Homo sapiens: one gene and its partner. The protein of the gene in region 2 purifies or fractionates together with the protein of the main gene of each other region. This does not show direct contact. Each region holds a gene or a part of one and is shown on either strand. Other genes may lie near its edges.

What was found.
Region 1: the proteins of PLEKHM2 (region 2) and ZDHHC8 fractionate together in Homo sapiens (co-fractionation; one large-scale study listed by BioGRID). This does not show direct contact.

The regions. Positions count from the first base shown.
Region 1 is NC_000022.11:20,145,156-20,148,507, reverse strand, and holds the end of ZDHHC8 (palmitoyltransferase ZDHHC8), read right to left. Parts: intron 3,280-3,352; coding exon 3,108-3,279; 3' UTR 1,488-3,107; coding exon of another isoform or gene 1,277-1,487; 3' UTR 501-1,276; downstream 1-500. Other genes in the region: CCDC188 (coiled-coil domain-containing protein 188), read left to right, coding at 1-43. UniProt on the Homo sapiens protein: Palmitoyltransferase that catalyzes the addition of palmitate onto various protein substrates and therefore functions in several unrelated biological processes.
Region 2 is NC_000001.11:15,715,090-15,719,097, reverse strand, and holds part of PLEKHM2 (pleckstrin homology domain-containing family M member 2), read right to left. Parts: intron 2,862-4,008; coding exon 2,755-2,861; intron 2,392-2,754; coding exon 2,282-2,391; intron 1,206-2,281; coding exon 1,106-1,205; intron 561-1,105; coding exon 473-560; intron 1-472. UniProt on the Homo sapiens protein: Plays a role in lysosomes movement and localization at the cell periphery acting as an effector of ARL8B.

The DNA of each region.
Region 1 (3,352 bases), on a different chromosome or scaffold from region 2:
TGCCAGAAGCTGCAGAGAAGGGTGGAGGTGGGGTCTGTCCTGAGGGCTGGGCCTGTGGCTGGACATAGAATCATGACATAAGTGGCCGGTGAGCACGTCTCTGTGGAAATTGGGGGAGGGATGCCCAGGCGATCCTGCAGCGAGGGTCCCTCAGGGTGGAGACCCCAGCTCAGGGCCGGCTTCCCACCCCACATCCTACCTGCCCTCCAGAAGGCAGCCCCTCTGCACGGGGCTCTGACCCCCCAAGGCGTCTTAGGAGGGTCTCCACTGAAAGGCAACAGCAGTAAGGACTGGGGGGTCCTCAGGTCTTGCCCCCTGGGCCAGGCCCTCCCAGGGACCTCAGAGGTCAGGTTTTCAGCGCTGAACCTGCTGATCCACTGACCTCATGCCCCTCATGCAACTCCCCTCCCTTCCTGGCCACCACCCTCCCTGCCCAGGTCCTGTCACCTCCCCAACCCAGGGCCCTGTCCGGTCCAGGGGACCACATTGGTAGACAGAGCTGATCAACACCAAAAATTTTATTTGGGGAATTAATTAGCAGGGGTACCCTTAAGAACAATAGAGAATGGTTTTGTGGCTTTCTCGTCCCCAAATGGGAGATGTAGAGCCACAGCCCAGGGTGGACCCAGGGACAGGGACCCTGTGACGGAGAAGGGCTGGCCGGAGTGCCACCCTGCCGCAGGCCGTACCACTGCTGGAGGACACAGGGCTTGGGCCTCAGGCCCTCTGAGATCCCGCCGGCATCGTCTCTGGGTGCAGGCAGCCCCAGTGGGGCCCAGGCGGAGCTGGCCAAGACCACAGGACCTTGGTGGCAGGCAGAGGCCAATGGCTCACCAGGCTGGTGGCTCCAGGAAGTTAAGGCATCTGTTCATGTGTCAGGGGAAGGGCAGGAGGAGTGCAGAGACCTTCAGGGGCAACCTGAGACCCCCCCCCCACCCAGCCCAACCCACGGAGGCCTGGGCTCCCCGAGGAGGAAGTGGCTTAGTCTAAAGTGCTTGGTTGGGTAGGGAGGCTGGGCAAAGGTCGTGCCGGTCCCCACAGCTCTGGGACTGCCCCCCTGTGGGGTGCTGGACCCCCTGCAGCAGGTGGGGGACTCCCTGAGGTCATGTGGACACAGGGTCTCAGGCCCTGGCAGGCTGGGAATCTGTCAAGCTGTGGCTGGTGGAGCAGAGAGCCCAGCCCACCCCCAGCCCTGCCCCAGGGTCCACTGCAGTCTGACCTCCTGGGTCCCCAGCTGGGCTGTCCTGGGCCCCAGAGCCGCCTACTTGTCATCCTGCTAGGGCCCCGAGAGGCTGGGGAAAAGACTGGAGGCAGCCAAGTGCAGGCGGCACATGGCCCCGCGTGGGGGTGCCCCGGCGGCCTGGCTCCAGGGGGCCCGCAGTGGTGGGCGGTCCTCCGGGCGGCCAAGGTGGCACAGGTGCAGCCCAGGAGGCACCCAAGGCTGGCCACGCCGCCCCCATCCACGGGTGCAGGTGCCAATCCGCCCCCTGCGGGCCGCGGCGTCCGTGAGAGAGAAGCAGAAAGGTGGAGGTCAGCTTCGGGGCCCTACAGCCCGCACGCCTCCCACGCTGGGACAGCCCCAGCCCAGAATGTCTCAGCCCTGAACAGCTGTGCATCCCTCACACTCCCTCAGCCCTGCCCCTGGCATGTGGCAGGCAGGAGAGTTCCAGCAGGTTCAGCGGCCCCCACAGGGCCCTGAGCCAACAGGTGGCCCCTATGCACCCCCATTTCATCTCCCCAAGCTCTCGGGTTCCTGAGAGTCCCCTGTGGGTAGCGGCAGACCCAAGTCTTTCCCCCAAACACCCTGTCACTGCCAGAACTGACACAGACCCAAGGCGAGAGACCCTCACACTTCCCAGCCACAGACCATCGGCCGCCCCCTCTTCCCAAGCCTCTGACTCAGCCCAAGTCGGCAGAAATGCCCCTGAGGAACCCACCGACCCCTGCACACCAGACAGCAGCCACTCCCTCTTCTGGGGCCCGGCCCCTGCCCTCCCCTAACTCGGGATCCTGCAGCAATAGCCCTGGCCTTGCCCAAGGAAAGAATCAAAATAACTCTTTTTCTTTTTTTTAATAAAATTATAGATATATAGATGTAGATATAAAAACATAAAACAGACACAACGCAAGCAGACGCTGTCATGTGCTTACTCTCAGGTCCCTGACACCAAGGGAAGCACTGACCCCTCCCCAGTGTGCTTTCCCACGGCGCGAGCACCGCAGCCAGGCCGGGGCTGCGGACGTGGCATGCCTTGGGGTGGGGTTCTCCAGTTTGGCAGGGAGGGCCTGAGGGCTGGGGAGGGGGCTCTGGGTGTCACCAGCCCCCTGTGGCAGCATCACCCCCGTGCCTGCTCCCGCCTGCCCCCCCGTCGCCTCCCACAAGAGCATAAAGCAAAGGTTAAGGCTTTGATGAAAGGGACAGCGGCGGCCGGAGCACTGACACATCAGACACGGCGCGGCAGCACAGCACACAGACACGGGACACATGGAGCCGGGCCCCCGGCCACAGCTGGCTGGCTGGCCGTCTGTCCACCTATCCACCACCACCCAGAGCAGGCCAGGGCAGAAGCATCAGCCTTGCCAAGCTACAAGCTTCCAGCGGGGTCCGTGAAAGGCAACGCGTTAGTTAGGAGTAGCCTGGCGGGGGACACTCGGTCCGGGAGCCCACAGGCTGTGTCAGAAGGACGGTGGGGGCCCTGGGTGCCTCTGTCCATCTCTGGGACCTGTCCGTAAGGGGACCATTGGGGGCTGGCCTGGCGGTGATCTGGGGTGCTGGGTGATGGCAGTGGGCCAAGCCTGGCTGAGAGAGGGTGCCCCAAAGAGGCTGACTGGGCCCCCTCACTGCCCCAGCCATGGGACAGGCCCAGACACAGACCAGCCCAGTGGCCCTTGTCCCAGTGAGCCGACTTCCCCATGGGCAGATGAGTGGACGGGCAGGCAGAGCGCTTGGGGCAAGCTGTGGAGGCGTGGCACTCTCTCCCGCCGATGGGTCCACACCAGGCTGGGGTGGCCTCGGGTCCCTGGGGCAGAGAAGTTGGTGGGGAGGGGGGGTGCGCTGTGGGGTCCTGGTCCCCGTGGCACCATGGCGGATGTGTGGCAGTCAGTCCTCACACCGAGATCTCGTAGGTGGTCCCACCCACGCCGGACACCTTCTTAACCAGCGTGTGCCGTGTAGGGCTGGCAGAGGGCCCTGGGGGGCCGGTGGCAGGTCCCAGCCGGGCCAGGCCCGGGGACTGCCCATTAAGCTTACTTGGGGGAGTCTTCAGCTGAGGGTGGTCCCTGCATCAAAACAAGCACATACACACATGCACACGGTGAACACACGAACACGGGGACAGAGGACGGAGGAGGC
Region 2 (4,008 bases):
GCCTCTTTGGCTCTATGTGGGCCAGCATCCCATTTGTACAGGGTGTGATGGGGAGAGAAACTTGAGAACTTGAAGAGGGTGGCTGAAGGCTCTTCATGGAGCTGATGACACTTTTCAGAACCCCAGAAGCACCAGGCTGAAACTGCCTTGTCCTTCTAACTCTTCACATCCTAAACATGAAGGCCAGTTCTTCTGGGCTAAGATACTCCAGGCAATGTGGCTTTTCTCCAAGTTGGATAGGGAGATAGGAAAAAGTCACCTGAACCAGGAATTCTTGCCATCACTTCTCTTCTCACTCAATTCGATGGACCCTGAAACCTTTCCCTCGCCCAAAAAAACAAGTTTTGCTCAAGCCCAGTCATACTCAACAAGCTCCCTCAACAAGACCTGAGAAATGAAGCCACCGCCCACCCTGCCCCCACCCTGCCCCCTCCTCTGCTTCCCACAAGCAGTGAGAGCCCTGGTGTCTCACCAGATCCAGCTCGAAACGAATGAACTCTAGCCCGGACACCAAGGTCAGGAAGAGCGTCAGGTGATCGTGGCTGCAGACCAGGGCATTCCTGCAAGACATGAGAAGCCACGATGGTGCCTCTGGGTCTGTTTACCAGCCTGGCCTAACCTTACCAACATACCAGCTGTGTTGAAATCTGACACGTGATGTCCTCCACCTTGGACGGCACCCAGCTTGATATAGCTGTTGCCCACCACCCTCTCAGCGATCTCCTACTGGGTTAGCAGCCACACTGCACTGTCCTGCCAGTGTCTTCAGAGATGGACGAGCACAAGGCTTGTCAGGCTCTCAGCAGCTGCTGTACACACTCTGTTCCTGCAGCAACCCCAGCAAAGGCTGAGCCAAAGCATGGGCACTGGTCAGGTCTGAAGCCTGGGAGGAGGACCAGGGAGCAGCAGAGACCCAGACTGTACCCAGGAGCCCAGATGGGACACCGGTGCTCCTGGTGAAGGCTACCCAGCTACTGGCAAGGTTCTAATGGCTCTCTGGCATCACTGATGTGGCACACTGTGCTGTCTGCATGACAAGAGCCTTTGGGAGGTAGCTGAAAGGGAGCTCTGAGGCTAGGGGAGACAGACCGTCCCAGACACTCACTTGACGTAGTACTTATGCAGCAGGCCCAGGTTCTCCTGGAACAACCGCAGGTAGCTCTCCAAGGAGTTCTCGTTGAGGGCCAGGTACAGCCAGGCACGGCCTGCAAACAAAGGCAGGAGTAACCGGCAGGAAGGCCTCTCAGACTGCTGGCTTTTATTTGCCAAGCAAGCGCAGAAAGGAAAGAAAGAGCAGGTAATGGGACCAGGCACTTCAGTGGCCTTTGTGCTTGGTGGGGTACCATAACCCCTGAGTGCTTTATTTTCCTAGTCAGACCTCAGCATGTAGCTGGCCAGGAAATTCTGATAAAGAGGGCAGACTGCACACTTCAGACAGGTCAAGAAACGCCAGGACTCTGCACTGATCCTGTAGGCTAACAGTGATCCCAGCTCAGGGAGAGAAACCAGACTCCATAGCACGTGCTCAGGCTGGGATTCCATAAGAGTCCAGCTCTCGCTGGCAGCTCGCCCTCTTTCTCCCCATCACTGCTGTGCCAAAAAACCATCATATGTGGGGAGAAAAGAGGCCTCATGGAGGGGGCTGGCATTTTATAAATTTATTATTTATTACTATTATTTTATTTTTTGAGACAGAGACTCTGTCACCCAGGCTGGAGTATAGTGGTGTGATCACAGCTCAATACAGCCTTAAATTCCTGGGCTCAAGGGATCCTCCTGCCTTACCCTCCCAAAGTGTTGGAATTACAGGCATGAGCCACTGTGCCCGGCCATTTTCCTAAATCTTTAGAGATGGGGTCTCACTCTTTCTTCCAGGCTGGAGTGCAATGCTGTGGTCATGCCTCACTGCAGCCTCAAACTCCGGGGCTCAAGCCATCCTCCCACCTCAGCCCCTGAGTAGCTGGGACTATAGGTGTGTACCAAGACATCCATGTAATATTTAAATTTTTGTAGAGATGGGGTCTCACTGTGTTGCCCAGGCTGGTCTAAACTCCTGGCCTCAAGCCATCCTCCCTCCTCAGCCTCCCAAAATGCTGGGATTACAGGTGTGAGCCACCATGCCTGGCCTGGTGCTGGCATTTTAACACCCCACTGCTACTGGACACCACCAGGTAATTTGCCTCCCAGGGCTGACCCTGAGGGTAAACCTGGGACAGAGCCCCAAGCTACCCACCGAAGGTGGAGCTGGTCCCTTCCCCAGCGTCTCCTTGTGACTACTCACTGCGCCCCAGGTTGGTGGCCACGTGCTGCAGCACCTCGATCTGCTTGATGGCCTCTCTCCGAGTAAAATGCACCACGAGCACCCAGTAGCCAGAGGAGAGGTCTTGCAGTCTGAGAAAACAGGACAGGAGCTGCTGTGACCTGCATGGGGCCACCCTGGGAAGCTGCAGTCGGCTGGTCCAGCAGTGAGCGCAAGGCAGGAAGTGATGGATCCCCAGCAGGTCTCCCAGGCACCCAGCACACCTTCACACCATCATATCATTTGTGGCAAATCCTCCCTCCATCATTTATGTCTGCCCAGAGATGATTTACTGGGGTAACTACAGAGAGACTGTGGCCCACTTGAGTGGGACAAATCCCTTTCTGCCAAGGGGAGAGAAGAAAGAAAAGGCAGAGAGGCTAAGGGTTTCTCTGTGGAGGCTACTCATGGCCTGGGTTGTGCTCCGTCATCTTTGGAAACTTCCTCCACCTTACCCGTACAGCAGGGCGTGGTCCAGGTGCTCACACAGACGCTGTAGGACCTTGTCATGGTTCCGGATGGCAGGGATCTCATCCTCACATGCAGCAAAATAGCTCTGCAACTGAAAGAAAAAAAAACACCTCCAAATCAGAAATGGATTAAGAGGAAGGCTACAAAAGTTCTGGAATCAAGAAGGTAGCTAAAAAAAATTAGTCAAATGGTGTATCCACAATGACCAGCAGAGACGTCTACCTCAAACCACCCCTGTCCCAGCTGCTGCTCTGGCACTGGAGGTTCCAGCAGGCAACAGCTGTATCTTTACAGCCCAGTCCCCCAGAGGCACCCAGTCAGCAGTCCGCACAGTGACAACTTGAGGCTGGAGGGATCCACTGTCCATGCATAGGTCTCAAGTGGTGGCAAGCTTCAGGCCAGGGCCACAGCATGGCACAACTTCAGGGGCACTATGTACAGTGCTGTCTAGACCAATGCCACACAAACCCAGAGTTGGGGCATTGATACAGAGAGCGCTAGACGTATTTTCCTCCCATTGTCAACAGACCTTTAAACTTTGCTTATGTTATTGTTTTGCCCTATTGAGAAAGTTTTAATTTTTAGGCAGTCAAATCTGTCCATCTTTTCCTTTATAGTTTCCCATTTTTCCCAGTCATATATTAGAAAAGTATCTTTTTTCTTTTCTTTTTGGTTGTTTGTTTTATTGAGACAAAGTCTTGTTCTGTCGCCCAGGCTGGAGGGCAGTGGCATGATCTCGGCTCACTGCAGCCTCCGCCTCCTGGGTTCAAGTGATTCTCCTGCCTCAGCCTCCCGAGTAGCTGGGATTACAGGTGCCCACCACCATGCCCAGCTAATTTTTTATCTTTAGTAGAGACGAGGTTTCGCCATGTTGGCCAGGCTGGTCTCAAGCTCCTGACCTCAGGTGATCCACCCACTTTGGCCTCCCAAAGTGCTGCGATTACAGGCGTGAGCCACTGTGCCCGGCCTGTTTGTTTTGAGACAGGGTCTCACTCTGTCATGCAGGCTGGAGTGCAGTGGTGTGATCACGGCTCGCTGCAGCCTCAATCTCCTGAATTCAAACAATCCTCCTTCATATCACAGTGGCCCCACTTGGAGCTACCCTCTGCATATACTAAGGGCCGATGGACTGGGGCACCTGCCCCACCAGCCTTCTTGCCAGCCTTCTTGACATGGAATACTAGAATTGCCTGCAATGCTGGATATGGATCTAGGTGCATGCAAGGCTCACGTTAAGC